Linked DNA regions of Homo sapiens: region 1 is linked to region 2. Evidence: fine-mapped expression QTL. A gene starts in region 2. The other region holds a variant in brackets. All regions are shown on one strand. Distances are between the middles of the regions. Region 1 has its middle 39 kb from the start of ATP13A3-DT. Region 2 holds the start of ATP13A3 (ATPase 13A3).

Region 1 (16,382 bases), 38 kb after region 2:
TAAAGTGGAAGAATCTCTTGGGCTCAGGAGCTCAAGACCAGCCTGGGCAACATAGGAAGACCCTATCTCTAAAAAAAATAAAAATAAAAACGGCACACAGTCAAAAATTCAAAAATTAATATACATAAGGCTATTTATTACAGAAACATTGGTAGTAGCAAAAGACTGGAAATAACTCAATGCCCATCAATAGGGAACGGAGTAAATAAACTAAGATACCTACACATAATGGAGTGCCATGCAGCTTTGAAAGGAAATGAGGCATATTTCTATGTTATATGTTGTGATCACCAGAATATAACCTAATGAGTAAAAAGCCAGGTGAAGAAAATTCTGATAATATGCTATCATTGGAGAGGGGAATATGAATATACCATACATCACATAGGAGGAGAGAGGAAATAAAGTGAGAGGATTGGGATAGAAGCTAGACTTTTCTAAATATATCTTGTTTTATAGATTTATGTTGGAAGTTTGTGGATATAGTACTTTAGAAAAGTATAAAACCAAATTAGACTTGACAAAATGAAACAAGTCAATCTGTTGAGTTGATGGTGTAACTACACAGTGAGAAACTATTGCAAATGACCTTAACACTCAGGAATTCCACTGTATATTCCTAATGGGAGATCCCCTAATGACCAAACTTAAACCCAGTCCAACCAAACCAAAAAACCTTGTAAAATATCTGAAACCATTTTTAGTAATGAAATGAGAAATGTGGTCGTGTTGGTGATATGGTTTGGCTGTGTCCCCACCCCGACATCATCTTGAATTGTAACTCCCACAATTCCCACATGTCATGAGAGGAACCCAGTGGGAGGTGATTGAATTATGGGTGTGGGTCTTTCCTGCGCTGTTCCCATGATAGTGAATGACAAGATCTGATGATTTTAAAAACGGTTTCCCCGCACAACCTCCCTCTCTTGCCTGCCACCATCTATGTAAGATGTGACTTGTTCCTCCTTGCCTTCCGCTGTGATCGTGAGGCCTCCCCAGCCATGTGGAACTGTAAGTCCATTAAACCTCTTTTTCTTCCCAGTCTCGGGTATGTCTTCATCAGCAGCATGAAAATAAACTCATACAGTAAATTGGTACCAATAAAGTGGGGTGCTGCTGAAAAGATACCCAAAAATGTGGAAGCGACTTTGGAACTGGGTTATCAGGCAGAGGCTGGAACAGTTTGGAGGGCTCAGAAGAAGACAGGAAAATGTGGGAAAGTTTGGAACTTCCTAGAGACTTGTTGAATGGCTTTGACAAAAATGCTGATAGTGATATGAACAATAAGGTCCAGGCTGAGGTGGTCTCAGATGGAGATGAGGAACTTGTTGGGAACTGGAACAAAGGTGACCCTTGTTATGTTTTAGCAAAGAGACTGGTGGCATTTTGCTCCTGCCTTAGAGATTTGCAGAACTTTGAACTTGAGAGAGATGATTTAGAGTATCTGGTGGAAGAAATGTCTAAGCAACAAAGTATTCAAGAGGTGACTTGGGCGTTCTTAAACACATTCAGTTTTATAAGGGAAGCAGAGCATAAAAGTTCAGAAACTTGCAGCCTGACAATGTAATAGAAAAGAAAATTCTATTTTCTGAGGAGAAATTCAAGCTGGCTGCAGAAATTTGCATAAGAAATGGGGACCCAAATATTAATCTCCAAGACAATGGGGAAAATGTCTCCAGGGCATTTCAGAGGTCTTCATGGCAGCCCCTCCCATCACGGGACCAGAGGCCTAGGAGGAAAAAAATGGTTTCTTGGGCCAGGCCCAGGGTCTCCGTGCTGTGTGCAGCCTAGGGACTTGGTGCCCTGCATCCCAGCTACTCCAGCCATGATTAAAAGGGCCCAAGGTACAGCTCGGGCCGTGGCTGCAGAGGGTGCAAGCCTCAAGCCTTGGAAGCTTCTATGTGGAATTCAACCTGTGGGTGCACAGAAGTCAAGAACTGAGGCTTGGGAACCTCTGCCTAGATTTCAGAGGATGTATGGAAACGCCTGGATATCCAGGAAGTTTGCTGCAGGGACAGGGCCCTCATGGAGAACCTCTGCTGGGACAGTGTGGAAAGGAAATGTGGAGTTGGAGTCCCCACACAGAGTCCCAACTGGGGCACCACCTAGTGGAGCTGTGAGAAGAGGGCCACTGTCCTCCAGACCCCAGAATGGTAGATCCACCGACAGCTTGCACATGTGCCTGGAAAATCGGCAGACACTCAACACCAGCCCATGAAAGCAGCCAGAAGGGAGGGTGTACCCTGCAAAGCCACAGGGGCTGAGCTGCCCAAGACCATGGGAACCCACTTCTTGCATCAGCGTGACCCGGATGCGAGACATGGAGTCAAAGGAGATCATTTTGGAGATTTAAGACTTAACTGCCCTGCTGGATTTCTGATTTGTATGGGGACCAGAGCGCCTTTGTTTTGGCCAATTTCTCCCATTTGGAATGGCTGTATTTACCCGATACCTGTACCCCCATTGTATCTGGGAAGTAACTAACTTGCTTTTGATCTTACAAGCTCCTAGGCGAAAGGAATGTGCCTTGTCTCAGATGAGACTTTGGACTGTGGACTTTTGAGTTAATGCTGAAATGAGTTAAGACTTTGGGAGACTGTTGGGAAGGCATGACTGGTTTTGAAACGTGAGAACATGAGATTTGGGAGGGGCCAGAGGCGGGATGATATGGTTTGGCTGTGTCCCCACCGAAATCTCATTTTGAATTGTAACTCCCACAACTCCTGTGTGTCATTGGAGGAACCCAGTGGGAGGTGATCGAATTATGGGGGCAGGTCTTTCCTGTGCGGTTCTCATGATGGTAAATGAGTCTCACAAGAGCTGATCGTTTTAAAAGTGGGAGTTTCCCTGTACAAGCTGTCTCTCTTGCCTGCTGCCATTCATGTAAGATGTGACTTACTCCTCCTTGCCTTCCACAATGATTGTGAGGCCGTCCCAGCCATGTGGGACTGTAAGTTCATTAAACCTTTTTTTCTTTCCAGTCTTGCATATGTCTTTATCAGCAGCATGAAAATGGACTAATACAGTTGGTAAGACTGTTTTGCATGTATTATAGGATAAAGCAATGAGTAATTATGTTGTTTTGAAAAGTGGGATGTTTTACATCCCAGGTATGGATATAAGATCAATAAAGTTAAGTAGAAACACTTTAGTCTTACCTAAATTTGAAATAGAACTATTAGTAAGAATCCATAAAGTATTTGCTTGTAAAAAATTCTTTCTAGAAACCATCATCAATTCAAAAGCAAGCATTTCTTGCACACAGAATATGATCTCTAAATGCCATTTACTAAAAGAAAGCAGGGCTCCTTAGAAAAATGGCTGATTCCAGATCTGGGCTCCTGGGAAAGAAATGTACAAGATGAGCCTGGAACATCATATTATACACCTGATAATCAAGCATTTATCAAGAACAATAGGGTGATTTCACAAGGCAAATACCAGATATTATGTGCCTCCTGATGAAAAACATTAGTCATGAAGTAGTCTTGCCAAAATCCCTAACCTAAATCTGATCAACTACTCTAAATCCAACTTCTAGTTTACAGGAAATGTCAAGGACAGAGAACATGTTAAATCATACTGCTGGTTGCAATCACCAAAATTATTGCAGTGGCTCATGCCTATAATCCCAGCACTTTGGGAGGCTAAGGAGGGCAGATTGCTTGAGCCCAGGAGTCTGAAACCAGTCTGAAATATAGTGAGACCCCCATTTCTACAAAAAATTGAAAAATTAACCAGGCATGGTAACATGCACCTATGGTCTCAGCTACTCTGCAGCCTGAGGCAGGAGGATCGCTTGATACCAGGAGTTTGAGGGTCCCTTGAGCCATGATTGCACCACTGCATTCCAGCCTGTGTGACAGAACGATACCCTGTTTAAAAAAAAGAAAATATCACAAAGACTTAGTTGCCTATAGTCCTAGCTACTCAGGAGGATGAGGCAGGAGCATGAGGCTGGAGGATGGCTTGAGCCCAGGAGTTCCAGTCCAGACTGGGCAACATAGTAACCCCCTCCCTTAAAAAAAAAACAAAAACAAAAACAAAAAAACAGACTCAGTCAACTTGAAGAGGCCCCCACTAACCAAAGAATAAGATAATCTGAGCATCAATAAGAATTATAACTGTGATGAATTGAAGCTCATCAAATGTTTAAAACCATGAATTCATGCTTTTTAAAAATTAAATCTATTGGTCACTTTTGGTGGGTGCTAGGGATCCATTTGTTATTTTGAAAATTGGCAAATAAAGAGAGAGAAGCATTTATATTACCTTTCCAGTGACAAATATAGCTTATGTTAACTGCATAGACGATCAGGGAAACCTTTTTTGGATGTATTACAGCTATTAAACAGAGAAAGACTAGAAGGATTACAATATCACCATTTTGCCATCTTTAGTAAATTAACAGGCCTGGACTTTGATCATCAATGACGGTCAAAAGACAAATACATGAGTGCCTCCCGATGAGAAACAGTCATGAAGTAGTCTTGCCAAAAATCACTAACCTGTCTGGTCACTACTCTAAATCCAACTACTAGTTTACAGGAAATGCCAAGGACAGGGAACGTGTTAAATGATACTGCTGAATGCAGTCGCCAAAACTCAGATGGTGAGAAATTCCATGAGATAAATGACCCAGCTTCTTCAACAAATACATTACAAGCAGGAGGAACTTATCAAGTAAAAGGGATCCAAGAGGCATACTGAAGTCTATGGGTGAAAATGATGCCATGATATGATTTGCTTCAGAATAATCCAGGAAGGGATTAGTCATAAAATAAGATTAGCCATGAATTCTTTTTTTTTTTTTTTTTTTTTTTTGAGATGGAATCTCGCTCTGTCACCCAGGCTGGGGTGCAGTGGTGCGATCTCGGCTCACTGCAACCTCTGCCTCCCGGGCTCAAGCAATTCTCCTGCCTCACCCTCCCAAGTAGCTGGGACTACAGGCGTGTGCTACCACACCTGGCTAATTTTTTGTTTTTAGTAGAGACGGGGTTTCACCATGTTGGCCAAGCTGGTCTCGAACTCCTGACCTCAGGTGATCTGCCCACCTTGGCCTCCCAAAGTGCAGGGATTACAGGTGTGAGCCACTGCGCCTGGCCGAATTCTTAATTATTGAACCTAGGTGATAGAATCGTGGAAGTTTATGATACCATTCTGTCTCCTTTTATGTTAGAAATTTTCCATAGTGAAATAAATAAATAAATAAATAAACAAAAAGGAAACTAAAGACTGAAGCCACAGAAAAGCTAAACAAACAAAATAAAGACTTTCTCTCTCTTTTTTTTTGGACACAGGGTCTTGCTGTGGTGCCCAGACTACCTGGGCTGCAGTGCAACGGTGCCATCTCAGCTTACTGCAGCCTCAACCTCCCAGGCTCAAGAGATCTTCCCAACTCCTGAATAGCTGGGACTACAGGTTCGCGCTACCATGCCCAGCTAAGTTTTCCATTTTTTTGTAGAGACAGGGTCTCGCCATGTTGCCCGGTCTAGTCTCAAACTCCTGGACTCAAGTGATTCCCCTGCCTAGGCCACCCAAAGTGCTGGGATGGATTACAGGTGTGAGCCGCCATGCCTGGCCAGAAGGTGAATTTTGAAGTCAGGTCGACTCGGCTTCAGTTCTGGCTTAGCCACTCCATAACTGTGTGACAAGAGACAAGTTCTAGCTCTGAAACCCAATTTTCTCAGGAAAATGGTGACAGTACACACCACCGTTCCGTTGTATGAATTAAAGGTAACAGTTGGGCAATGCTTGGCAGAGCTCCTCGCACATAGTAACCACCTTTACTTATTGCTGGAGGGAAGGTTGTACACCCTTGGGCCTTTTCTCTTTTTGAAATAGCTGGTATGGAACTCAGGTGACAAGACTAGTGGAGGCAGGAAGAGGGACCCAGGAATTCTATCTTCCTATGGCTAAAAGGGGAAAAAGAAGCTTCCCCGCCTGGAATACTTCCTGAATCTTGCCCCTCCTCCCCATTTTTCAGGGCTCTTTTCTAGTTCTGCCTCCAGGCAAAATTAGTACCTCCTCTTTTTGCCTCAGCTTTTCCACAAGTCTATTTGAACACATCCTTTGACCCCTTTTATTGGTGTGATTTGAACCAGGCACAGTGGCTCAGGCCTGTAATCCCAGCACTTTGGGAGGCCAAGGCGGGAGGATCACTCGAGTCCAGGAGTTGGCGACCAGTCTGGGCGACATAGCAAGACCCTGCCTCTGTTTTAAAAACTTTTTTTTTTTTTGAGACAGAGTCTTGCTCTGTCACCCAGGCTGGAGTGACGTGGCGCAAACTCGGCTCACTGCAAGCTCCACCTCCTGGGTTCAAGCGATTCTCCTATCTCAGCCTCCCGAGTATCTGGAATTACAGGTGCATGCGACCATGCCCGGCTGATTTTTGTATTTTTAGTAGAGACGGGGTTTCACCACGTTGGCCAGGCTGGTCTCAAACTCCTGACCTCAGGTGATCTGCCAGCCTTGGCCTCCCAAAGCGCTGGGATTACAGGCATGAGCCACCGCACCCAGCCTTGAAAAAACAATTTTTTTAAGTAATTAAATATTAGTGTGATTTTTTTTCTGTTCTTCCTCCACTGTTCCCCAAGCTATAAACTTCCCTACAGGGCAAGAGTCTTCAAGATCTTTCTTTCTACCCAGGTGCCCAGAACAGTGTCTGGCACATTGTAGGCGCTCAAAAAAATGCTTACTGCCTCGGAAACCTGACCAGAAAAGGCCAACTGTATGTGGGGTGGGGAAGGGAATGAGAAGGGTTAACCTTTCTCCTCCACCTTCAGCTCTGTGTCAGATGATATACAAGTGGAGACTGAATCCCGTAGATTTATAGTGTGTTTTATGATGATATAAACAGAGCTTTTTTGTTATTATTAATCATCCCATTTATGCATTTCAAAAATCCACAAAAATTCATCATTAAAATTTGTTTCATACCTTCTCATCCTTTCTCTCAATAACGTAGCAGTGTTAGAATTTTGTCTCAATTC[G/T]TCATGGCCTTCAGGTAGCACTTGTCTGCTGGACACAGAGGGACAGGAATTCTCAACCTGAAGACTGCAAGTTTCAGCCACCTATGAAGTTTCAGCATCCTGATGTTGCAAAATGGTACATATACATGTGTACCTATATACATTTTTTTTTGAGACAGAGTCTTGCTCTGCTACCCAGGCTGGAGTGCAGTGGCATGATCTCAGCTCACTGCAACCTCCACCTCCCAGGTTCAAGCGATTCTCCTATGTCAGCCTCCTGAGTAGATGGGATTACAGGTGTGTGCCACCACACCCGGCTAATTTTTTATATTTTTGGCAGAGATGGGGTTTCACCACGTTGGCAGGCTGGTCTCAAACTCCTGACCTCAAGTGATCTGCCTGCCTTGGCCTCCCAAAGTGTTGGGATTACAGGCATGAGCCACCACCCCTGGCCCATATATGCATTTTTGGATAGGGTGATGGTCTGTGATTTTTCAGTCAGATGCTCTCATGGGTTCCTGACCTAACAAAGGAGAATGACTACATTCAATAGAAGAGGTGCAAAATAATGAGAAACACTAAGTGTTCACTGAGAACTCTTTCTTTTCTTTTTCTTTTTCTTTTTTTTTTTTTTTTTTTGAGACGGAATCTCACTCTGTCACCCAGGCTGGAGTGCAGTGGCGCGATCTCAGCTCACCACAACCTCCGCCTCCCAGGTTCAAACAATTCTCCTGCCTCAGCCTCCCGAGTAGCTGGGATTACAGGCATGCACCACCACGCCTGGCTAACTTTTGTTTTTTTAGTAGAGATGGAGTTTCTCCATGTTGGTCAGGCCAGTCTGAAACTCCTGACCTCAGGTGATCCACCTGCCTCGGCCTCCCAAAGTGCTGGGATTATAGGCGTGAACCACTGTGCCTGGCCTAGTGTACCCATTCTTTAAGGCCCCACTCCTGTCCCTTCTCCCTACCACTGTCCCTGCCTCTTACCCAACCAGTTGTCTTTCTCTCTTGTAAACTCCAACATTTCACATTTATCTCTTGTTATATGTGGCTAGTAACCATTGATCACCTTCCTTATGTTTGCTCATGTTTTACCTTCCCAGCTAGTCTGTATGCTTCTCGAAGGCTAGGCTCATATTGCACATCATTGTATCTTCTTTGCCCTCTGGAAGGCTAGGATCATATTGCGCATCATTGTATCTTCTTTGCCCTCTGGAAGGCTAGGATCATATTGCGCATCATTGTATCTTCTTTGCCCCCGGAGCATGGCCTGCCTAGAGGGGATATTTGGTCATTTCTTTTTCATTGATTGGTTTTATAACCACCATAATGTTTGAACTCCTTAATGTGGCCTACATGGATTGGTCTTTGCCACCCTATTTGGCCTCATTTGTGTCTCCTCCCCCTTTACATTTTATACCTAGCCATCCTCAATACCAGCCAGTTCCTTAGAAATTCCATGGGCCAAGCACAGTGGCTCATCACACCTGTAATCCCAGCACTTTGGGAGGCCGAAGCGGGCGGATCACCTGAGGTCAGTAGTTCCAGACCAGCCTGACCAACACGGTGAAACCCCATCTCTACTAAAATACAAAAATTAGCCAGTTGTGGTGGTGCACGCCTGTAATCCCAGCTTCTCGGGAGGCTGAGGCAGGAGAATCGCTTGAACCCAGGAGGTGGGGGTTGCAGTGAGCCCAGATCGCCCTACTGCACTCTAGCTTGGGTGACAGGGCAGTGACCCTGTCTCAAAAAAAAAAAAAAAGAAAGAAAGAAAGGAAAGAAAGAAGGAAGGAAGGAAGGAAGGAAGAAAGAAAGAAAAAAAGAAAGAAAGAGAAAGAAAGAAAGAGAAAGAAAGAAAAGAAGAAAGAAAGAAAGAAAGAAAGAAAGAAAGAAAGAAAGAAAGAAAGAAAGAAAGAAAGAAAGAAAGAAAGAAAAATTGCAGCCATGACACCTCACACAGCTTCCTCTGCCGGAACACTCATCTCCTCTTCTGTCTGGTTGACTCTTCTCAACATTTGCATCTCAATCTGGGAATTACTTCCTAACGAGAAGTCTTCCCCTGGACTTCATCAGAAAGTACAAATTAGTAAGATTGCGCCAGCAAAATGCGTAGTGTGTGAGAAAGCACTTAGCAAGAGGAAATGAGAAACATTCACGTCCACTTACTCATGAGCTTGCTCCAGCTTCTTCTTCTCCTGTCCCCTAGTTCCCTCTGGATGTCAGCCATCTGAAATTACTCACAGGACATCTGAATGCACTTTGTTTTATCATACAAAGTGTGCCTTTGTACACACTTTTCTTCCGTTTTTTTTCTTCCTTTTTTTTTTTTTTTTGGAGGCCAAGTGCACTGACGCCATTTCGGCTCATTGCAACCCCTGCCTCCTGGGTTCAAGCTATTCTCCTGCCTCAGCCTCCCAAGTAGCTGGGACTACAGGTGTGTACCACCATGCCTGACTAATTTTTGTATTTTTAGTAGAGATGGGGTTTCACCATGTTGGCCAGGCTGGTCTCGAACCCTGACCTCAAGTGATCCACCCACCTCGGCCTCTCAAAGTTCTGGGATTACAGGTGTGAGCCATTATGCCCAGCCTGTACACACTAAACATTTTTCATTTTTTCATTCTTCCTAGGATTCCATTTAATCCATGCCCTTCCTTCCTTCCTCCTTCCCTTCCCTCCCTTCCCCTCCCCTCCCCTCCCCTTCTCTTCCTTTCTTCCTTCTTTCTTTTCTCTTTCTTTCTCTTTCTTTCTTTCTTTTTCTTTCTTTCTTCTGTTCTTTCCTTCTTTTGTTCTTTTCTTCCTTCCTTCTTTCCTTCCTTGCTTCCATTCTTTCCCTCTCCCCCCGCCTTCCTTCCCTCTCTCTCCACACCCCTACCCCCGCCCTTCTCTTTCTTTTGAGAGTCTTACTCTATTGCCCAGGATGGAGTGCAATGGTGCCATCACAGCTCACTGCAACCTCTGCCTCCCGGGTTCAAGTGATCTTCGTGCCTCAGCCACCTGAGTAGCTGTGGGATTACAAGTATCTGCAATCAGGTCTGGCTAATTTTTGTATTTTTAGTAGATATGGGGTTTCACCGTGTTGGCCAGGCTGGTCTTCAACTCCTGGCCTCAAGTGATCCACCCACCTCGGTCTCCCAAAGTGCTGGGATTAAAGGCATGAGCCACCGCGTGGCCTAATCCATGCCCTTTCTTCACCTAATTAACTCCTACTCATTTTTCAATGCCCAGCCAAGGGGTTTGTATAATGGTGCAATTTTTGTTTGTTTGTTTGTTTTATGAGACGGTCTTGCTCTGTCACCCAGGCTGGAGTGCAGTGGTACGATTTTGGCTCACTGCAACCTCTGCCTCCCCGGGCTCAAGCAATTCTCCTGCCTCCCTCCCGAGCAGCTGGAATTACAAGTGCACACCACCACACGCTGCTAATTTTTTTGTATTTTTAGTAGAGATAGGATTCCACCATGTTGGCCAGGCTGATCTCGAACTCCTGACCTCAAGTGATCTGCCTGCCTTGGCCTCCCAAAGTACTGGGATTACAGGCATGAGCCACTGCGCTCGGCCAAATGGGGAAAATTGTAATAATTTCTACCTCCGAGGGTTGTTGTGGGAATGAAATGAATTAATGTCTATACAGTTCTTTGACTTCTTCCTGGCATATAGTAAGTGCTAAATAATTTTTAGCTATTATCAGCAACAACATCATCTTCTCTTTCATCATTATTATCAGTATATGTAATATACAAGTCTCTTGTCATTTTTCATGCTATATAGTAATTGCTTTTCATGTCTGTCTCTCCACCATCATATGTGCTCCTTTTTGATCGAATGATCCTCAAATAACGAGGTCATTCTACAGGCCCTAACAAAGCATCAACAGTCAAGGTTTGGAGCTACAGAAATCCTACAGAGAGCTGTGAAAAGAAAAACGTCAACTGGATGAAAAGGCTGTGGGAAAAGGAACAAGTAAATAAGGTTAGAAAGAATGCCTTAGAAATAGCCACAGGACTCATTCACTATTGATCACAGTGCAAGTTGACACAACCTTATTTTGTCAGGCATTTTGGTGCTTCACACGAAAATGTTATTTATTTATTTATTTATTTATTTATTTATTGGAGACAGAGTCTTGCTTTGTCACCCAGGCTGGAGTGCAGTGGCGCAATCTTGGTCACTGCAGCCTCTGCCTCCCAGGTTCAAGCGATTCTCCTGTCTCAGCCTCCTGCATAGCTGGGATTACAGGCACATGCCACCATGCCCAGCTAATTTTTGTATTTTTTTAGTAGCGATGGGGTTTCACCATCTTGGCCAGGCTGGTCTCCAACATCTGACCTCAGGTGATCTGCCCGCCTCAGCCTCCCAGAGTGCTGGGAATACAGGCGTGAGCCACCACACCCGGCCAAAAATTTTAATTACATATATCCTTAAACCGAGAAATATCACTTTTAGAAGTCTATTCAATAAAAACAATTTCTCTGGTATACAAAGATACATGAAAAGGTTAACCATCACATTACTTGTAAGAATAAAAAATTTTGAGAGGCTGAGGTGGGTGGATCACCTGAGGTCAGGAGTTTGAAACCAACCTGGCCAACATGGTGAAACCGCGTCTCTACTAAAAATACAAAAATTAGGTGGGCATGGTGGCGCACACCTGTAATCTCAGCCACTCGGGAGGCTAAGACAGAAGAATCACTTGAACCTGTGAGGCAGAGGTTGCGGTGAGCCAAGATCATGTCACTGCACTCTAGGTTGGGTGACAGAGCGAGACTCCGTCTCAAAAAAAATAAATAAATTTAAAAAAGAATAAAAAATTGGAAACAGCAGAAATGCTCATCAAGGAAAGATTAATTAAATTAATTGTGGGATTGTGCTGCATCCATACAATGAAAGACTATGGAACTATTAAAAAGGAGGTAAAGCTCTCTGTCTGGAAGCCAGAAGTCCACAACATATAGTTAAATGAAAAAGCAAGTCGCAAAATAGTCTAAATTTATTAGCCCAATTTTGGGGTCAACTTTATTGAGGTACAATTTAAATGCAATAAAATTCACCAATGTTAAGTGCACAATAAATGAGTTTTAACAAATATACCATCATATAGTCACTACCACAATCATGAAATTGATAGGATATTTTCATTACCCCCAAAAAATTACCTTGAAACATTTTTCAGTCATTCTACACCCCTACCCTCTGCCTCCTGGCAACCACTAATCTGCTTTTTATAACTAAGATTTTGGACTTTTTTTTAGCACTTCACATAAATGGAATTATATAGTAGATAGTCTTGAGTCTGACTCCTTTCACATAGCATGAAGCTTTTGAGATTCATTCGTGTTTTACATATCAGTGGTTCATTCTTTATTATTGCTGAGTAGCATTTCACTGTAAGGTTTTACTACATTTTATATATTCATTTACCAGTTCTTGGGCATTTGGATTGATTCCAGTTTTTAATGAGTATGAATAAAACCACTATAAACATTTGTGTACAGATTTATTTAATTTAACTTTTTATTTTGAAATAATTATAGATTCACATTATAAGAAATAATACAGAGATTGTTTCCTTACTTATGGAAGAAAAGAAAAAAAGAGAGATCCCTTGATCCAGCTTCCCCCAGTGGTAACATCTTGTAAAGTATAGTAACATATCACAACCAGGCTGTTGACATTGATGAAGTCAAGACACAGAGCAGTTCCATCATCACTGGGACCCCTTGTGTTGCCCTTTTATAGCCACACTCACCTCTTTCCCCGCCCCCAGCTCCTGGCAACTATTAGTCTCTTCTCCATAATTTTGTCATTTCAAGAGTGTAATATAGATAAATGTAAGCATACAATATACAATATACAATTTGTAAAGATTGGCTATTTTCACTCAGCCTAATTCCCTAGGGATTCATTACATATGAGATTCATTACATATACACACACACACACACACACACACACACACCAATAGCTTGCTCCTGTTTATTGCTGAGTAGTGTTCCGTCCTGTGCATATACCATGACTTGGTTTTTGGCTATTATGAATAAAGTCGCTATGAACAATTGGTGTGAATGTAAGTTTTCTTTTCTCTGAGATAAATGCCCAGGAGAGCAACTGTGGGTTGTATGGTAGTTTCATGCAGTTTTATTTATTTATTTATTTATTTATTTATTTATTTATTGAGACGGATTCTCCCTCTGTCACCCAAGCTGGAGTGCAGTGGCGAGATCTCGGCTCACTGCAACCTCCGCCTCCTGGGTTCAGGCAATTCTCCTACCTCAGCCTCCCGAGTAGATGGGACTACAGGCGCGCGCCACCACGCCTGGCTAATTTTTTTGTACTTTTAGTAGAGACAGGGTTTCATTGTGTTAGCCGGGATGGTCTCGATCTCCTGACCTCGTGATCCACCCGCTTCAGCCTCCCAAAGTGCTGGGATTACAGGTGTGAGCCATCACGCCCAGCCCGCACGGTTTTATTTTTAAAAACTGCTAAACCTTTTCCCAGAGTGGTTGTATCATTTCACATTCCTACCAGCAATTTTTGTGGCCCAGTTTCTCTACATCTTTGCCAGCATTTGGTGTTGTCATTATTTTTCATTTTAGCCATTCTGCTAGGCAAAAATAAAAAATATCTTTTTAACTTTTTTTTTTTTTTTTGGTATTTCTAGTACAGACGGGGTTTCACCATGTTGGCCAGGCTGGTCTCGAACTCCTGACCTCAGGTGATCTGCCTACCTCAGCCTCCGAAAGTGCTGGGATTACAGGCATGAGCCACCGTGCCCAGCCTAAAATAAAAAATATTATTATGCTACATGCAAAATGCAAAATAATATTTCACTGTGGCTTTATTTTGTATTTCCCTAATGGCTAATGATGTTGAACTCTTTTCATGTGCTTATTTGCCATCTGTATAGCTTCTTCAGGAAATGTCTGTTCATGTCTTTTACCCGTTTTCTAATTGGATTTTTTTACAAGTTTGTAAGTGTGCAAATTTGGGGGTTTCCTGAAACCACCCTCAGGTTTGGTACTTTGCTAGAATGACTATCCAAGTGATCCTCCTGCCTCAGCCTCCCAAAGTGCTAGGATTACAAGCATGAGGTACCACACCCGCCAAATAATTCTTTTTATATTCTTGATACAAATACTTTGACAGATACATATTTTGCCGATATTTTACCCCAGACTTGCCTTTTCATTTTCTTAACAGTATTATTTGAAGAGCAAATTTTTAAAATTTTTATGAAGACCTAGTCATCATATTTTCCTTTTTGTGGTCTATTTAATATATTAATATATGCCCAACCCAGGGTCACAAAGACGTTCTTCTGTATTTTATTCTAGAAAAGTTCTAGTTCTAGTTCTTACATTCCGGTCTACTTTTCATTTCAAGTTAGTTTTTGCAGATACTATGAGGTAAGGGTTGAGGCTCATTTCTTTACATATGGATATCAATAATTACAGTATGACATGTGCAAAAGAGTCCATTTTCTCAGTGAATTGCCTTGGTATCTGTAAGGAGTTACCCAAACCACACAGTCAGACGGAACAATCCCTATAAGATTGCCCTGACTTCAGACACCAACTGCGAGTTTGCGGCTTCCTAAAACCACTCTCAGATTTGGTACTTTGCTAGAATGACTCACAGAACTCAGGAAAGTGCTGTGTGTACCACTGCAGCTTTATTATAGCAATGGGATATAAATTAGAACCAGACAAAGGAAGAGACACGTAGGGTGAAGTCTGGGAGGGTTGCAAACATGAAACTGCCACTATCTTCAGGAAAGTGTTTTCCTACCAGCACTGATGTGTGATAGTCTGTTCAGAGTATTCCCAACCAGGGAAACTTACCTGAGCTCTGGTGCCCAGAGATTTTATTGAGGTTTTCTTACAAACACGATTGGTTGAGCCCATGTGGTTGTACTCAATCTCCCGCCCCCTGTTCCCTAGAGGTTGAGCTGATACCATGTGTCCCCCAGCTCCAACCGTCTTATCAGATAGTTGGTCTTCCTGCCATGGCCACCCCCAACATGTTATAGCATAAAATATCAGGTGTAGTTCCAAGGGCCCATCAAATAACAAAGACACCCTTAACACTCAGGAAATTCCAAGAGTTTAGAGATTACCTCCCAGGAGATGGGGAAAAGGCCAGGCTTCTCTATAGGAGCCACATTTCTTGCTATATAAAATCTTTGTCAAAAGCAAATATAAAATGTGGTTCATATCCACAGGTTTAGGTCATACATGTGTATGTGTAGATCTATTTCTGGTCTCTCTTTTGTTCAATGATCTACTAGATGGAATTTTCTATGTAAAGAATTCTGTAATGATTTTTTAAAAATATGGAACCCTTGCAAATTTGCATGTCATCCTTGCGCAGGGACCATGCTAATTTTCTGTCTCATTCCAGTTTTTTTTTTTTTTTTTTTTTTTGAGACGGAGTCTCGCTTAGTTGCCCAGGCTGGAGTGCAGTGGCATGATCTTGGCTCACTGCAAGCTCCACCTCCTGGGTTCACACCATTCTCCTGCCTCAGCCTCCCAATTAGCTGGGACTACAGGTGCCCGCCACCACGCCGGGATAATTTTTTTTTTAATTTTTTTTTATTTTTAGTAGAGACAGGGTTTCACCATGTTAGCCAGGATGGTCTCAATCTCCTGACTTTGTGATCTGCCCTCCTCGGCCTCCCAGAGTGCTGGGATTACAGGCATGAGCCACCACTCCTGGCCTGTCTCATTCCAGTTTTATCAAATGTGCTATTGAAATGAGTGCTGTATAATTTTTAAACAATGTGCATACAATACTTCCATAGAAAGGAAAAAATGATAAGGATATAAGGAAAAATGATCTGCTTAAGCAGAAAAAAATAATTATACATAATAGCTGAAATACAACATTAGGGAAATTTCCCAGGAAATATAGCAAAAAGATAAAGGGATATAAAATAGTAGACAAAAGGTTAGGAAGTTAAGAGTACTAGTTCAGGGGATCTTATATCTGAATACCGGTGTTTCCAGAAAGAAAAAAGAGAAAAGAAGGGACAAAGCAATCAATGTCATAATTCAACAATAGAATGAACTGTGATATTTAAGAGCCAATAAGTAGCCAGCATCATTTTAGGGAGGAAGAGAAGATTTCATTGCCTCTAGAGATGAAAAAATTGGCTATATACAAAGTTTAGGAAGCAAAATGGATTTGGACTTCGCATCAGCAACACTAGAAGCCAAAGCACAATGAAGCAGTGCCTTTAAAATTCTGAGAAATGTAACTTGCAATCTGGAATTCTATACCCAGCCATACTATCAATTGAGTATGAGAGCAGAAAAAAATATGTTCAAGTATGTAAGATTTCAAAAACTTTTATCTATCATGCACTCCTTCTCTATAAGCTACCGGAGAAGATACTCCACGCAAAGACCAAGTAAAT
Region 2 (16,382 bases):
AATGAAAATAATGCATATAAAGTCCTATAAAATAAATACAATTACAGATAGTTTTAAATTTTATAAGGTGGTCAGAGACAGAGACATTGGGTAACAGTAACAAGATGGGAGAGAAAACAGACTGCAAACACACCAGAGACACAAAGAGAAAAACTAAAATATACATAAAATGTATATCGGAGATACATGAGGTTAACATCTTGAGCTTTTGAGGATGTTGCTACTAAAGATACAAAATCATAGATTGTTTTGGACATAAAAAGCCTGAATATAACATTATTGCCTGCTGTTCCAGTTAACAAAAAAACAAAGAGCAATCATCAATCACACCCCACACACACATCTGACTTGTTTTGAATATCTTCAATGTTACTAAGTTAACAAATAATAAGTTACCCTTCACTCAGACTCTTATCCTTACAATTCTCTAAGGTACCCTTTATCACCTCTATCTGGCAAATAAAAAAGCTCTCAGAGGTTCAGTGACTTACTTAACCCAGACTACAAGACTGGTATGTGACAGAGCTGTAATTCAAAATCACTATGGCTCTGAAGCCCACATTTTTATCCAATACACCATGCCCTCTCCCAGGACATAAGACTGTTAAGTTTTTAGCCACCATCATGTTTTTACATACTCATGTTTTCTTACTGTGCTATCCCCAGAGTAATACTTAAGTTTAGATACTTTAAATTTCATGGAATCCATTAATAATTTACATCGCTCTTTTAAAACAATGCAGATCTTGCTAGCAGTAAGGAATAAATTTATTCTTTAAAAAAACAAAACAAAAACACTCAAAGTAGTTGAGTATCCCCTCAGAATGACAGACAGTACCAATAATCTCCTAATATTCTCAACTTTATTACCTAGCCTTTTAATTATACTAGATCTTTTTGTGGCATAACCTTACGGAGATAGCAGATGTTCATAAATACCTAAGTTATTTCTCCATTATTCACACTGTGGAGTCACATCATATATGCACTTAATTAAAACCAATTCAACTACTTACACTCTGGGGGGAAGCAACAGAGAAAAATAATTTGAATAATGATGATAGTATGCCTTCCTTTACATCCCTGTCCCAGAGTGAGCATGAAATGAAGACTATAAATCCGCTATGCTCAGTCAATCTAAGACCCATTCACCTGTCAAAACGGTCTCACACAGCTGGTGAGGATTCCAGCTCACCAAAAAAGGGACCTCTCTAAAACTACAGGAAAAACTGGACACTAGAATTGAAAGACAGAATGTCAGTTTCCAACCAGTTTTCAAACTGGTGCCTTTTTAAAAGACTTTTTCCAAGGGTAATTTTGACTACACAGGATTTTTATCTGAGAATTTAGGCCCAAAGGCCCCATGAGCAGTGATTGCACTTTATTCAGCTCTTTAGATCAATCAGAAAAAAATCAGGACCCAAAACACTTGTCTTTTATATCAAAATAAATAACTAAAATATATTTCATCCTATTTCACAAATGGAAAAAAAAAAAAACAGAGCAACAGGGATGCTATGAAGAAACCACCCTTAGACACATATGTGGGAGCAATTCCATGACTCATTTTAAACAAACTAAAAATAGTTTGTTTCAAGAAGTCTGTCAAGCAAGCAAAGGCAACCCTTAAAAGTTGGCTCTCACTGGAAAAAAAAAATGCAAAAGTTTTGAGATGTGCCATTACTACAGAGTACAAAATTAAAGCAAGGGTGAAAGGAACACCCAAGCTAGAGAAAGGATCTGGGGTTAGACCATAAAGGATCCTTTATGCTGTCACTTACTTCACTTTCCTCTTCTCTAAAAAGGCACTAATCTAAATAATCCATGATCTCTCCGCATTATTTTCCAGTCTCACACCTCTTTATTTCAATGTTCAACTCCTTTGTGAAAAAAAAATAAGAAAAACTCACTGAGCTAGAACCATCTTTCACCTTACCACCCAACATCAGTTACAAGTATTTTTACTTCAAACTTGAGAAAGATTCTGTAGACATCAGCAATTTCCAGACCACATAATTAGGAAATTCTACTTTACATACTTAAGTGACTTTTTCTGGAAATTTAATTTCTTATCTAACTAGTCTCTGAGTGTCAATTGATCATTTAAAACCAAGATCCACAGGGAGTAAGTGTAAGAATCAACAAAAAAGACAAAATTCTGATTAACAGATTAATTTTGCGGTCTTGACGTTTACTATTCGAGTTAATGTTTTACCATCTCAGACTCTAGCAAAGGTTCCAATATGACCCTGTGGGTCTAAGATGTTAACAGATATGGTATTGGCATAGTTCCCTCTAGAGAATCATTTTATGGAAACTTTTCAGCAATCACCATCCTCAAACAACCTTCCTCAGTGTCAGACACTTATTTGGACAGTTCTCTCCTTTATTCCGTTTTTCTCCCTTCTTACTGATTACCATAAAGTCATTTTTTAAACTATCATAACAGTGATCATTTTTTCCAATTACCATTTACTCATGTCATCTCATTTTACCTCTATTTTTAACCTGATTAATACAAATTATTTTTGGTTGTTTTAAGACAAAGTCTTGCTTTGTCACTCAGGCTGGTCTCAAACTCCTGGCCTCAAGCCATCCTCCTGCCTTGGCCTCCCAAAGCACTGGGATTTCAAGCATGAGTCACTGTGCATAACCTACTAACACAAATCGTTTTAACTCCTTTTATAATCACTAGTTATCTAGTGATAACTGATTAACTGTGGACCTTCTTCTACCTTACAAATATCTACTTTTCTCCAGATTAATTTGAGCCCAGAACTTTTTCATTTTTTTAAACCTAAATCTTAATTAAAATTATGTGCCAGAAATCTGAGCCTCTCTTACTTCTCTACTCTCAAAATATGATGTTCAACAAAACTCAAACGAGAACCTAACAATTTCCTTGCTTCTTGCATGCTATTTGAACTTAAGTGGTTAATTAGAACATGGTTTTGGCTGGGCAAGGTGGCTCATGTCTGTAATTCCTACACTTTGGGAGGCTGAGGCAGGAGGATCACTTGAGGCCAGGAGTTCTGAGACAAGCCTGGGCAACAAACCGAGATACTCATCTCTACAAAAAAATTTTAAAGGCCGGGCGTGGTGGCTCACGCCTGTAATCCCAGCAGTCTGGAAGGCCGAGGCAGGCGGATCACAAGGTCAGGAGTTCAAGATCAGACTGGTCAACATGGTGAAACCCAGTCTCTACTAAAGATACAAAAAATTAGCCAGGCATGGTGGTGGGCACCTGTAATCCCAGCTACTCGGAAAGCTGAGGCAGGAGAATCGCTTGAACCCAGGAGGCGGAAGTTGCAGTGAGCGGAGATCGCGCCTCTGCACTCCAGCCAGGATGACAGTACAAGACTCCGTCTCAAAAAAAAAAAAAAAATTTTTTTTTAAATTAGCCAGACATGATGGCACACACCCGTTGTCCCAACTACCCTTGTTGCTGAGGCAGGAAGGTCGCCTGAGCCCAGGAACTCAAGGCTGCAGTGAGCCATGATCGTGCCACTACACTCTAGCCTGAGTGAGAGAGCGAGACTCTTTCTCTGGGGGGAAAAAAAAAGAAAAAAGGACGGGGTGCAGTGATAAATGCCTGTAACCCTAACACTTTGGGAGGCCAAGGCAGGCAGACTGCTTCAGTTCAGGAGTTTGAGACCAGCCTGGGCAACACGGTGAAAACCCACCTCTACAAAAAAAAAAAAAACTAGCTGGGTGTGATGGTGCACACCTGTGGTCCCAGCTACTCTGGAAGCTGAGGTGGGAGGACTGCTTGAGCCCAGAAGGTCAAGGCTGCAGTGAGCCATGACAGAGCCACTGCACTCCAGCCTGGGAGACAGAGCAAGACCCTATCTCAAAAAAACTCAACATGGTTTTGACGACTACAGATTTACTCTCTCCATAGGCCAATTAGCTTCATTTTCACAAAAACTATGTTCCAAAACCAAGGCTAAATCCCATCAGCTACCTCTTGGATCCAGATGAGATATGGCATATTCAGAATACATTCAGAGGTAACACCAAGAAGAAATTTAATTTCTAATTTCTTCTGGCTACTCCAGGCACACTGCCTATCGAGCAGCCCTGTTCTGCAAGAAGCAGTATTAAAAAATGTTTTTAAAACTTTAAAAAATAAGAAATGTGATTCTAAGGAGGGAGAGAGAAGGGAGAAAAGGATGAGTACAACATATCTAAGAGTTAAACTGAGCTATATTTGAATGGATGATAAATGGAATAGGAGTTGGCAGCTTATCACCTATCAAAGAAAACAGTCAAAACAGTTCACAGTTGTGTGCTAAAAGAAGGTGATCTAGTGTGTGACACCTATTAAGATGACATATCTGATTTATCACCAGAATCTGAGGTTCAGAGATGTTATGTTGCCTAGTCACATACAACTAACCTTATAAACCCAGAGACAGAAACCTCTGTGTTAAGCACATTAACACAGAGCTAGGTTTCTGTCTGTCTTCAAAGTCGCTTATACTGTAAGCTCCTTAACTTCTTTAATTTTTTTTTTAACAAAGAAGAATATTGTTACCTGAAAGTGTTGAGGATTAGTTGAGACCATATGTAAAGAAAGGAGCACTTTTCCTGGCACATAATGGTTTCTTTCCTTCTTCCATTCCATATATTGAATCAAACTATGCTTGTATAACGTGGTGGTTTTGTAACTACTGTGAATATGAGGTTTTAGAATATGAATATGCTTTATTCCTAAGATAAATAGTAATCTTAGGACATAGGCACTATATCATATTACTATGGATATACAACCTACTCAATGGTCAAACTCAGTGAGAATAAGCAGTGATGGGGACGCCCTATGGAACTTTATCTTTATTCTGTCTTTTTTCTCAGTCTCAGTGATGTTGGAAATAAGAACTTTATACTTGTGAATGACAACAAAGTGGTTTATAATCTCGAAAATCTTGAAGACAGAAATAGGATTTCAAAATGAGCTCGATAATGTGGTTTATCCAAAGCGGATTCTGTGTGTTGTATATTTGGTGACCTAAACTAACTATGTAAGTATCAACCGCCAAGCTCGGTGGCTAGCGCCTGTAATACCAGCACTTTGGGAGGCCTAGGCAGGAAGATCACCTGAAGTCAGTAGTTCACGACCAGCCTGGCCAACGTGGTGAAACCCTGTCTCTACTAAAAATACAAAAAATTAGCTGGGCGTGGTGGCACACACCTGAAATCCCAGCTACTTAGGAGGCTGCGACAGGAGAATCGCTGAAACCCAGGAGGCAGAAGTTACAGTGAGCCGAGTTCACACCACTGCACTCCAGCCTGGGCAACAGAGCAAGATGCCATCTCAAAAAAAAAAAAAAAAATTTAAAGCAACCAAATAGTGTCACTTTTCCTACCCAATCCCCTGACCAAAGCCAGGCATTGTTGTTCTAACAAGGCTCAAAATCTCAATTATTTCACTCTCTGCCTGATCTAATGGTAGGATAATGCAAATCAAAGATACCAGCAAAAGTTATGTTCTACAACAATCATTAATAATAGGTTTACTACTTCGAACAACTTCCAAGCACTGATTTGCCTTAAAGGGGTTGCAAACCAGGATGAGATGCCCACACACATTGATTTTTGGCAACTGTAGTCTATTAAGCAAAGCAACAAACCTCTAGAGAAAATAATGTCACATATATTCCAGTGAAACAAAATTAATACATGTACCTTGGTAAAGAGGCTGAGCTCTAACCAAAGATAGAGCACTGTTCATTACGTACTCACCCTTCAAAGGAATCAAATCGAAACACTTTCATTTTAACAACGATACTTTTTAAAGGCTTTATTTTGCAATAATCTTTCAAGTCCCTGCATTTCTTAGATTCCTTAAATTCTAACTTCCTGCCTCATAGATCTAAAGTAGCCATGACATACCCAGGTATGTTCTACTCATTTAGTTAGAATCGTATAGAGGAACACAAGTCTGTTTCTAGGTGTACGACTCCACACCCATTCATTTTGCACTAATATAACCACTAAATATAGCTCTAAGACACTGATGATTAAAAGCGGCTAATTATGTGAGTGATTCATACCTCCTATGTCCAAACACCAAGATTCAGGGATGTCTGTCAGATCTATGGGAAGAGGAAACAATAAACACCTGTCACAAAGCTTCTTCCACACCGGGAAGCCCCCAGCTGAGTTCCTGCCAATCCCAACCCGATTCCCTCCCCCTTCATCCCTACCCCTCACCTCCCCAAAAAAGCCAGAGGTCATACTTCCACCAGAACCTGACTCTGTGAAGGGAATGGAGAGACAGAAAGGCCATAGCGAGAGTGGCCACGAGAGCACTGCTAGGGCAAAGGGCCCTGGGTTTTTCTAGTCCTCACTGCCACAGAGTCCGAGTGGGAGGCCTCAGGCAAGTCAGAAGTCACTTTTCCTCCACGGGACTCACTCCTTTTATCTGTGAAATGCGGAGATGGCAAGCAGCTCCATACTCCACGGCTGAGGACGAGCTAGGGTCCCGCACAGACTCATCGAGGGCCCTGCCAGCACCCCTACGCCTCTGCCCACAGGACCTCCACCTCCCACAGGACTTTCCGAAAGCTCTGACTACCAACCACCAAGCGCCCGGCCCCCACGCTCGCCCCCGGCAGGCGGCGCGTCCCCCCCAGGCCTTCGCACCCACCGCGTGGGCTCCTGCCCTGGCCTCACCTGCCCCCGACACTCCCCGTCCCCGCGATGCCCAACTCCGGCCCGAGAAGGCTGGCCGCGACCTCGCCCGGTACCCGCCGCCCCGACACCACCATTCGCCTCCTCGACCTCCCCCGGCGCCGCTGCCCACCCGCCCCTCGCCCCGCTCACCGGGGCCGCTCACTGGCCGCCGCCGCGCCGCCTCCTCCGCGGCCTCCCTCGCGGCCGGACCAGCCCCAGGGACCGCGGGGGACCCGGCCGCCGCTGTCGCCGCCGCCGCCTCGCCTCAGCCCAGCCCCATCGCCCTCGGCCGGCGCCGCGCGCTGCGGCTCAGGGTGAGGGAAGGAGGCGCCGCGGCGGGGCCGGGCCGGCCCTGGGACGTCCGCGCTCTCCTCCTCCTCCGCGCCCGCGGCGGCGGCGTGCAGCCGGCAGGGCGAGAACAAGGGAGGGCGGCGGGAGGTGGGCAGGGGAGGGGGGCGGTCTGCACTCCGAAACGGCCCCCCCGCCGCCAGCGACGTAGAGAACCCCCCTCCCCTCCGCGGCGGCGCCCGATCACGCTGCGGGGAGAGCCGGCAGGCAGGCGGGGGAGCGCGCGCGGGCTCAGGACTCCCGCGCCGGATGTGAGGTCACGTGGTGGCTTCATCCCCGCGCGGAGGGCGGAGGGGCGCGGGCGACGTCAGGAGGCGGGGAAGGGGCGGGGAGGGGCGGGGCGATTTATAGGCCCCGCCCACCCATCGCCTTTGCCACCCTCGAACGGGCAAAAGAAAGAAAGAGGCAGGTAAGGGGAGGCGAGGCCGTCCAAAAACGCTGGGTGTCAGCCCGGGGTGGCTAATGGAGGGCGGCTTTTCTGGTGGGATGAAATGGAACGGCAAATCCCACTTCATCCCCTTTGGGCTATGACAACATCATAGTCCAATCTCCCATTTTATGAACAGGGAAACTGAGGCTCAGTGACTAGACAGACGTTGCCCAGAGTCATGGTCATGGAGGAAGCTTGTGCTAGAATGGTGGAGAGGAAACCAGAGCCCAGCTCCTAATGCAAGGCTCTTTCATTCCTTTAGCCACCCTCGCCCCCGCCAAAACAAACAGACAAAAAACTGTCATTCTCATATGACCACGGACTCTGCGCCCCGGCCGCAGGCGGAGGACAGGGAGGAGCGCACACGAGAAAGCTCCCACGCGCCCGCGCCTCGCCTCCGACGGGAAGGCGCCTCTTCCGACCGTCCTGGATGCAAATTAAATACTTCCCTCCGCAGAAGACTTATCTCGGGGTAGGGCCGCAGCCGGATTTCCAAATCGCGGGTTTGATTTTCGCTGCGTCCTCTCCGCGACGCGCGCAGGGAGCGCGCCCGGCCACCTGCAGCCTCTGGCTGCGGCCATCTTTCCGCCTGGGGCCACCTGGCCTGCGCCCTTTGTGCCCGGCCCGCTCCGTGACTGTTCTTCTTGCCGCTACTTACAGAACTCAGCCGCCTTAGCGTCTTAGAGAAGAGGACGGCATGCATGCGGACCCCGTCCACCACACCTGGAGAGCAGGGAGCCCTTAGTCCCTGGACACTTACCAGGGCCGCCACCCCTGGTCCACGCACGTGATGACATCTCACCAGGGGCAGCACACCGCCCGAGTCCGCGACACTGATAACACCTCCTGCGGGCAGGAGGGCGCCACAGCCACCCCTGGTCCCCTAGATTGTGTGAGGCTAGCATTTCTGCCCGCCTCTTGGCGTGGACAGCACGCTGGACCGAGATGGAACCACAGCTTTCTCTTCCCAATCCCTGGCCTCACCGTTTTGTTTCATACCTCACCGTTTGTTTCAAACCTCGTGGTGTTGAAATGATTAAATGAGATTAAGGGGTGTGTGGTAGTGTTGGGCAAACCACAAGAAAACGGTCTGGGTGGGGTCTGGCCCTAAAATCTTCCTCCCCCACCTCCCAGGCTTCCTTGCCTTGCTGCTTCCTCTCAGCCTTTAAACAGGTTGGCCTCTCCAAGTCCTAAAAACAAAATTATCAAGCCAACCTCCTCCTGAAGTGCTCCCTCCAACTAGCTTCCAAGTGTTTCATGCGGACCTCAAACAATGGTCTTCCCTGGCTGCCTCTGCTTCCTCATTTCTCAACACTTGGCATTCTGGCTTCTCCTCCCCAACTCTAACCCTTCACCTTGCTCAGGCAAGAGCAACTCATGACTTTCATTTTGCCAAACCTTGCAGGCATTCCTCAGGCCTTATCTCTCTGGTTCTTTCTGCTACATTTGACACCTTGGGATGACTCTCACCTTCTGGAATCTCTCTACTACCTTGGTTTCAGAAGAGTGAACCCTCTGGATTATCACATGAAGGTAAGTAAAGCCTCTGCCTCCTTGGTAACATCTACTTGTGAATCTGCACCTTAAATTCAGGATTCCACTCTAAGCCAACAACTTTGCTCACTTCACTCATTCTTCTGGGATTGCCTGCATCCTCATGGATGCAGCTCCCAAATTAGCAATTTCCAACCCAGACCCCTTCCACAAAATTTAGAACCAAATATCCAATTGCCTGCCAGGCAGCTCTAGCTAGATATCACAGACACCCCAAACTGGACATTTCCAAAACTGAACTCATTCTCTGCTTTCATAGCTGCCCCTCCCTCAGCTGTTGGCACCACCATCTCCACAGTCATCAGAATTAGAAAGTTGGGAATGAGTGAGTCATTCTTAATTCAGCCCTCTGCCTTACCCAATCACCAAGTCCTATCTATTTCACCTCCTTAATAAGCCTCAAATTCCTATGGTGGGCTGGGCGCAGTGGCTCATGCCTGTAATCCCAGCACTTTGGGAGGCCGAGGCTGGTGGATCACACGAGGTCAGGAGTTCAAGACCAGCCTGACAACATGGTGAAACCTCATCTCTACTAAAAATACAAAATTAGCTGGACGTGGTGGCACATGCCTGTAATCCCAGCTACTTGGGAGGCTGAGGCAGGAGAATCGCTTGAACCTGGGAGATGGAGGTTGCAGTGGGCTGAGATTGCGCCATTGCACTCCACTCTGGCCAAGAAGAGCAAAACTCCATCTAAAAAAAAAAATTCCTACGGTGGTTCCCACTGGCATCCATCCTTTCCAGCCTGAATTGTTAGACAAATTCAGCCTTCAGAGTGAACTACAATGCACTCCATTTAAAATCCTAAGAGTTTCCCTAGGCTTCTGGCTGCAGTGTATACCTCCAAGCTACCCAGCATGAACCTGTCAACGCGTTCGGGCTTTTAAAAGATCACAAAGAGCCCCAGAATTCGAGGTGCAGCCAAAGTAAGGCAACATACAGCCAGTCAAGGGAAAGCTATAGGAAAAAGAGAAAAGCAGTTGGATATTCCAAAAACTTTTCTGTTACAGATGTTTTGAGAATGGTGAAAAAAGGAATTTGGACACTGGCTTTAGAGGAAGTGCTGAGTCACCAGGAAAGGCTTGAGCATGTTTATGGGTTGAGGGAAAAGAAGGTGCAAGAAAAAAGGAGAAACCCAAGATAGGCGAGAGAAAGGGAGTGGAACAGTCTGGAGAAGTCCTGGAAGACTTACTGGTTCTCAAGTCATGATGATTCTGGGTCCAAGCCCACTGCTTCCCCCCTCTGATCCTACTCACTGTAAGCACCAACCCTGATTGCAGCTGCATGGAGGTAACAGTCATACCAGTAAGGTCTGACGTCACTTCTCAGAAAGGCTATTTTGCATCTTCTTCATCCTCAAAACCCCCATCTTTGCATGCCCTTCCCTCTCACTGTCCCCTTACTTCCTATTTCACTAAGAAAACATACACCATCAAGAGGAAAAATCCTCATCTTCCCACCCGCAAATCTGCGCATCATCCTACATCGGCCCCAGGATCTATTTTCCCACTCCAGAGAGGCAAAGCCTCCTCCTAACAGAGCTAGCTCTCCACAAAATGACCACTGTTAGGCCAACTCCAGGGGCTAGGCCTCCCCAAAATATTACTGTTGCCAAATCCGGAGGACACTTTGCAGGCCTTATCTTTCTAGTTCTCTCAGCAGCATGCATCTCCTATCCTTGAGACACTTTGCTGTTAGTTTTGATAACATACTCTATTTTGGAATTCCTCCTCCCTGTTTCTCTTTGTCTACTCCATCTCAGCCTCCGCAGGTGCTTCCTCTGTCCTTCTCTAAATGTTGCTGTTCCCCAAGGCTCAACCCAGGATCCATTCCTGTGTCTACACAAGGTTTGTTGTGTTTTTGTTTGTTTGTTTGTTTTTAATTTGACATCTCTTGACCTTACAAGAGTTGTGGATGGGCTTCAGAAGGATCTATAAGCTCCTTAAACTTGGATGCAAATACTTTTAAAGGAAGAAGTGGAGCTTTTAGCAGCTTCTCAAAGGTGTCTGGGTCCCCCAAAAAAGATAAGAGGACTGATCCACATGCTCTCCCCTGGTGGCCTCATCTACTATGGCTATAGCTGTCATCTGCATGTACATTAATAACTGTAAACTGAGGCTGGGCATGGTGGCTCACGCCTTTAATCCCAGCAATTTGGGAGGCCGAGGCGGGCGGATCACCTGAGGTTGGGAGTTTGAGATCAGCCTGGCCAACATGGTGAAACCCCATCCACTAAACATACATAAATTAGCCAGACGTGGTGGCGTGCGCCTGTAATCCCAGCTACTTGGGAGGCTGAGGCAGGAGAATCACTTGAACCCAGGAGGCAGAGGCTGCAGTGAGCTGAGATGGCACCATTGTACTCCAGCCTGGATGACAGAGCAAGACTCTATCTCAAAAAGAATGTCAACCATATGCCTGCAGCCCAGGCCACTCCTCAGAGTCCCTTGGCCATTCCTCCCTATCATTTTCACATGGGGTTTCACTGGTGCCAGATAAGTTCACTTATCCCAAACTTAACTCTTGCCTTTCTTCCCCAAATCAGCTCCTCTCTCCTGGGCCTCCTGACCTTAGCAAAGACGCTGTCACCCAAACAACTGCTGAAGCCCAAAACCTGGGAGTCATTCTTTACACCTCCCTCTCCTTCACCACCCCATCCAATCCAACACCAAGTCCATTTCAAATCCTTCCCCATTGCTCCATTTCACTGCCACTAGAATAATGCATGCCCCCTCATCTCTCACCTCGCACGCCCCCTCCATCTCTCACCTGGCATGTCCCCTCCACTCTCACCTGGCATGCCCCCTCATCTCTCACCTGGCATGCCTCCTCATCTCTCACCTGGCATGTCCCCTCCATCTCTCACCTGGCATGCCCCCTCCATCTCTGACCTGGCATGTCCCCTCCATCTCTCACCTGGCATGCCCCCTCATCTCTCACCTGGCATGCCTCCTCATCTCTCACCTGGCATGTCCCCTCCATCTCTCACCTGGCATGCCCCCTCCATCTCTGACCTGGCATGTCCCCTCCATCTCTCACCTGGCATGCCCCCTCATCTCTCACCTGGCATGCCCCCTCATCTCTCACCTGGCATGTCCCCTCATCTCTCACCTGGCATGCCTCCTCCATCTCTCACCTGGCATGCCCCCTCATCTCTCACCTGGCACTAGTGCATTCGCTCCCAGTGGGTTCCTCTGCTTTTGCCCTTGCCCACCTCCAGTGCATTATCACACAGCAGCCAGAGTATTAGTTTATGTGACTTCAAGCAGAGCTGCTGATAAAAGCTTTCACTTGCTTCCCACCTCACTTGGAATACTAGATGAACTTCTTGGGTCCACAAAGTCCAGTGCAGGATGTAACCTGCCCACCACTTCCCCCTCCACTGGCACTCCTCTGCTCTCCCCGTCTTCTCACCGCAGACCCCTTCCCCAAGTTACTCCAGCTACACTAGGCCTTCTTTCAATTCCTCAAACGCACCAACCTCTTTCCTGACTCACGGTCTTTGTACAATCTATTCTTTCCCTTCCCTTTTTTTCTTGCCTGACTAACTTATAAGTTCAACTTTGGGCTTAAATGCATATACAGTTGTCCCTCGATATCTACAGGGAATTGGTTTCAGAACCTCTGTGGATACCAAAATCCAAAAATACTCAAGTTTCTTGGATAAAAGGGTATAGTATTTGCATATAACCTATATACATCCTCCTGTGTACTTTTTTTTTTTTTTTTGAGACAGAGTCTCGTTGGGTCACCCAGGAGTACAATGGCATGATCTTGGCTTAGTGCAACCTCCGCCTCCTGGGTTCAAGCAATTCTCCTGCCTCAGCCTCCCAAGTAGCTGGGATTACAGGCATCCGCCACCAGGCCCAGCTAATTTTTTGTATTTTTAGTAGAGACAGGGTTTCACCATGTTGGCCAGGCTGGTCTTGAACTCCTGACCTCAGGTGATCCACCTGCTTCAGCCTCCAAAAGTGCTGGGATTACAGGCATGAGCCACCACAACCCGTGATCTATACTTTAAATCATCTCTAGATTACTTATAATACGATGTAAATTCTATGCAAACATATTTTTATGTATAGTATTTTTATTGTGTTGTTATTGTATTTATCTCAAGGCTGTGGTTGTATGACACTTATGTAAGATTGAAAAAATAATGGTTGTTTATTTTTGTAAATGTGAGAAGGACTTTTGGGATTATGGGAAACAGGCACATAAAATATCCTTCTCACCCGGGCACAGTGGCAGGTGCCTGTAGTCCCAGCTACTTGGGAGGCTGAGGTGGGAGGATTTCTAGGATTGCCTAAGCGCAGGAGTTTGAGTTTATGGTGAGCTATGATTGTGCCACTGCACTCCAGCCTGGGCAACATAGTGAGATCTCAGCTCTTAAAAAAAAAAAAAAAAATCCCCCATCCCCACCCAAACCATCTCTTTGTGCTGCTACTGGTAAAGAATAAGTCAGTTTGGCTTATCACTGTAGACCCAGCACTAGATGAAGCCTGGCATGTGATAGACACTCAAATGTTTGCACCTGATGGATGACTGAATGAATGAATTTACGATCTCAGATATCATCTCTAAATGCCTTCCCTGACTCCCAGGCTAAGAATCCCTCTTTAGCTGAGCGCACGGCTCACCCCTGTAATCCCAACACTTTGGGAGGCCGAGGCAGGTGGATCACTTGAGGTCAGGAGTTCGAGACCAGCCTGGCCAACATAATGAAACCCCGTCTCTACCAAAAATACAAAAATTAGCCAGGTGTGATGTCAGGCACCTATAATCCCAGCTACTCAGGAGGCTGAGGTGGGAGAATCGCATGAACCCGGAGGTGGAGGTTTGCAGTGAGCTGAGATCACGCCACTGCACTCCAGCCTGGCAAGACTCCATCTCAAAAAACAAAACAAAAAGAATCCCTCTTTAGTGCATATTTGTCTCACTGCATTTACAACCTTGAATAAGCACCTATTTAGTGTTTTTGTTTTCCATGAGTCTACCTTATTCATGTTTTTTTCCTAAGGTTCTGAATACTTTCATATGTTATCTCATTTAATCATCACAACGATGCCAACACTAAAAGTAGTAGTGACTATTCTGTTCATTTTCATAGACGAAGAAACTTTACATATATGATCTCATTAACCTTTATAACAATTCTAGGAAGGAGGTACTATTATTTCTGTTTACAGATTGAGGAAAGCTTATTTCTGCTTACAAATTGAGGAAGATTATTTCTGCTTACAAATTGAGGAAAGCTTAAAAATCCCATTTTACAGAATGGAAAAAGAGGTGTTCAATAACTCACCCGAAAGCACAGCCAGGATTCAAACCCAGACACTTTGCTCCAGGGCCAAACTCTTGACCACTATAACCAAATGAAGCCAGAGTGATTCACCAGAATGAGTTCATCTCGCATCAAAACTCTGGATTATCTGTTTAAGCACCCAGACTTCCACCTCCTCATGAGCCAGGACCTTCCTCAGCCACATCTGGATCCTCAGCCCCTCACAGCACACAGCGGTAGTCAGAAAGTATGCTGAGTAAGTGGAGAACAAGTTAACATTGATTTTCACAACCACGATGTCAGACTAGCAATGGAATTGTTTTGATTCTCCTTTTATAGAGAAGAAAAATGAGATTCACAACTTCACAAGAGGGAGTGTCTTATCTAAGAATCTCTGACTGAGTTCAGCCCTTGTTTGTATTCCCTCTGCTGCCTCCACAAAAGGTTAGAGGTCACATGTTTAGATTATGAAGACCTTTTGCCATTAAAAAATGGCAAAACAAGCAAACAAAACAAACACAGCACTCATTGCCTTTCCTAGAAAAACTGTCCATTAAAAGTACTTTGAGGCTGTGCGCAGTGGCTCATGCCTGTAATTCCAGCACTTTGGGAGGCTGAGGCAGGTGGATCACCTGAGGTTGGGAGTTTGAGACCAGCCTGGCCAACATGGCGAAACCCTGTCTCTACTAAACATACAAAAATTAGCCAGGCATGATGGCAGGCGCCTGTAATCCCAGCTACTTGGGAGACCGAGGCAGGAGAACTGCTTGAACCTGGGAGGTGGAGGCTGCAGTGAGCCGAAATCATGCCACTGCACTCCAGCCTGGGCGACAGAGGGAGACTCCATCTCAAAAAAAGAAAAGAAAGTACTTTGATTATGATTATGATGTTTGCCCAACAAGCTCTATCTCTCTTTCTTTTAGTGCCTCCTAAGCCATTCAGTTCCTATTTAGCTTGACCTATGCAGGCCAGTGTGTGTGTGTGTGTGTACTGGAATGGGAACAGAGAGCAGGACTGTTAAGTCAGATGTCTACAAATCACAGTCCATGGCCATCACTGACTTGTTTCTGTCTCTAAACAAAGCATGTAAAAACTGTTTGCCTCTGCCATGAGGCAAAAGCATGCGCTTGGCATTTTTCTGAGGTCATGATGCCCTAGGATGTGGCAGTTCACGTGCCACTGAATATTGTTTACCAACTAGCTATTCAGGACACGGGGTCCCTCCTGGAGGAGTGCTTACTGCTGGCGTCGGGCCAGTGTGCTGATAACCTAGTTCTCTAAGAGATTGAAAACTCTGACTGTGTGGCCCCTGCCAATTTCATGGTGTAAATGCTCCCACCACAGCCAATTTCAAGCTACCAAGAGTTTCCCTACTGCTTCACGAAATTCCTGAAAATTTTTATGGTTACTTATTTATTTTATTGTTTTTGAAATGGAGTTTTGCTCTTGTCGCCTAGGCTGGAGTAAAATGGCACCATCTTGGCTCACTGCAACCTCCGCCTCCCAGGTTCAAGTGATTCTCCTGCCTCAGCCTCCTGAGTAACTGGGATTACAGGTGCCCACCACCACACCCAGCTAATTTTTGTATTTTTAGTAGAGATTGGGGCTTTACCATGTTGGCCAGGCTAGTCTCGAACTCCTGACCTCACAAGATCCACCCACCGTGGCTCCCAAAGTGCTGGGATTACAGGCGTGAGCCACCACGCCTGGCTCAAATTCCTGAAAATTTAATAGCCAGCATTAGTGAGCCAATACACACCAGCCCCAGCACACTGCTGTGTATAATAATTCCATGTATGGGTGGGGAGAGAAGAAATACAAGTAGTCCTTTAAGATTTTGGCTTGGCCAGGTACAATGGCTCATGCCTGTAATCCCAGCACTTTGGGAGGCTGAGTCGGGCAGATTACCTGAGGTCAGGGGTTCGAGACCAGCCTGGCCAATGTGGTGAAACCCCATCTCTACTAAAAATACAAAAAATTAGCTGGGCGTGGGGGTGGGCGCCTGTAATCCCAGCTACTCGGGAGGCTGAGGCAGGAGAATCACTTGAACCCCAGAGGCGGATATTGCAGTGAACCAAGATCACACCACTG

What was found.
Region 1: its variant is fine-mapped to the expression of ATP13A3 in whole blood (INTERVAL, PIP 0.98).

Annotation. Positions count from the first base shown.
Region 1 is chr3:194,518,210-194,534,591 of GRCh38, forward strand. It overlaps the pseudogene RNU6-1101P. Among named protein-coding and RNA genes, the nearest start is that of ATP13A3-DT, 39 kb to the left of the region's middle. RefSeq lists an enhancer at 2,571-2,865. The variant G/T (reference allele first, on the strand shown) is at 6,993.
Region 2 is chr3:194,479,738-194,496,119 of GRCh38, forward strand. It overlaps ATP13A3 (ATPase 13A3), which reads right to left and starts at 7,265. Exons shown (of 34, transcript NM_001367549.1): 1 at 6,829-7,265; 2 at 6,057-6,098. It overlaps ATP13A3-DT (ATP13A3 divergent transcript), which reads left to right and starts at 7,403. Exons shown (of 2, transcript NR_033929.1): 1 at 7,403-7,435; 2 at 7,719-8,808. RefSeq lists silencers at 6,505-6,564, 6,655-6,704, 6,735-7,394 and enhancers at 8,065-8,284, 10,418-10,537, 12,289-12,398, 12,409-12,458, 12,499-12,548.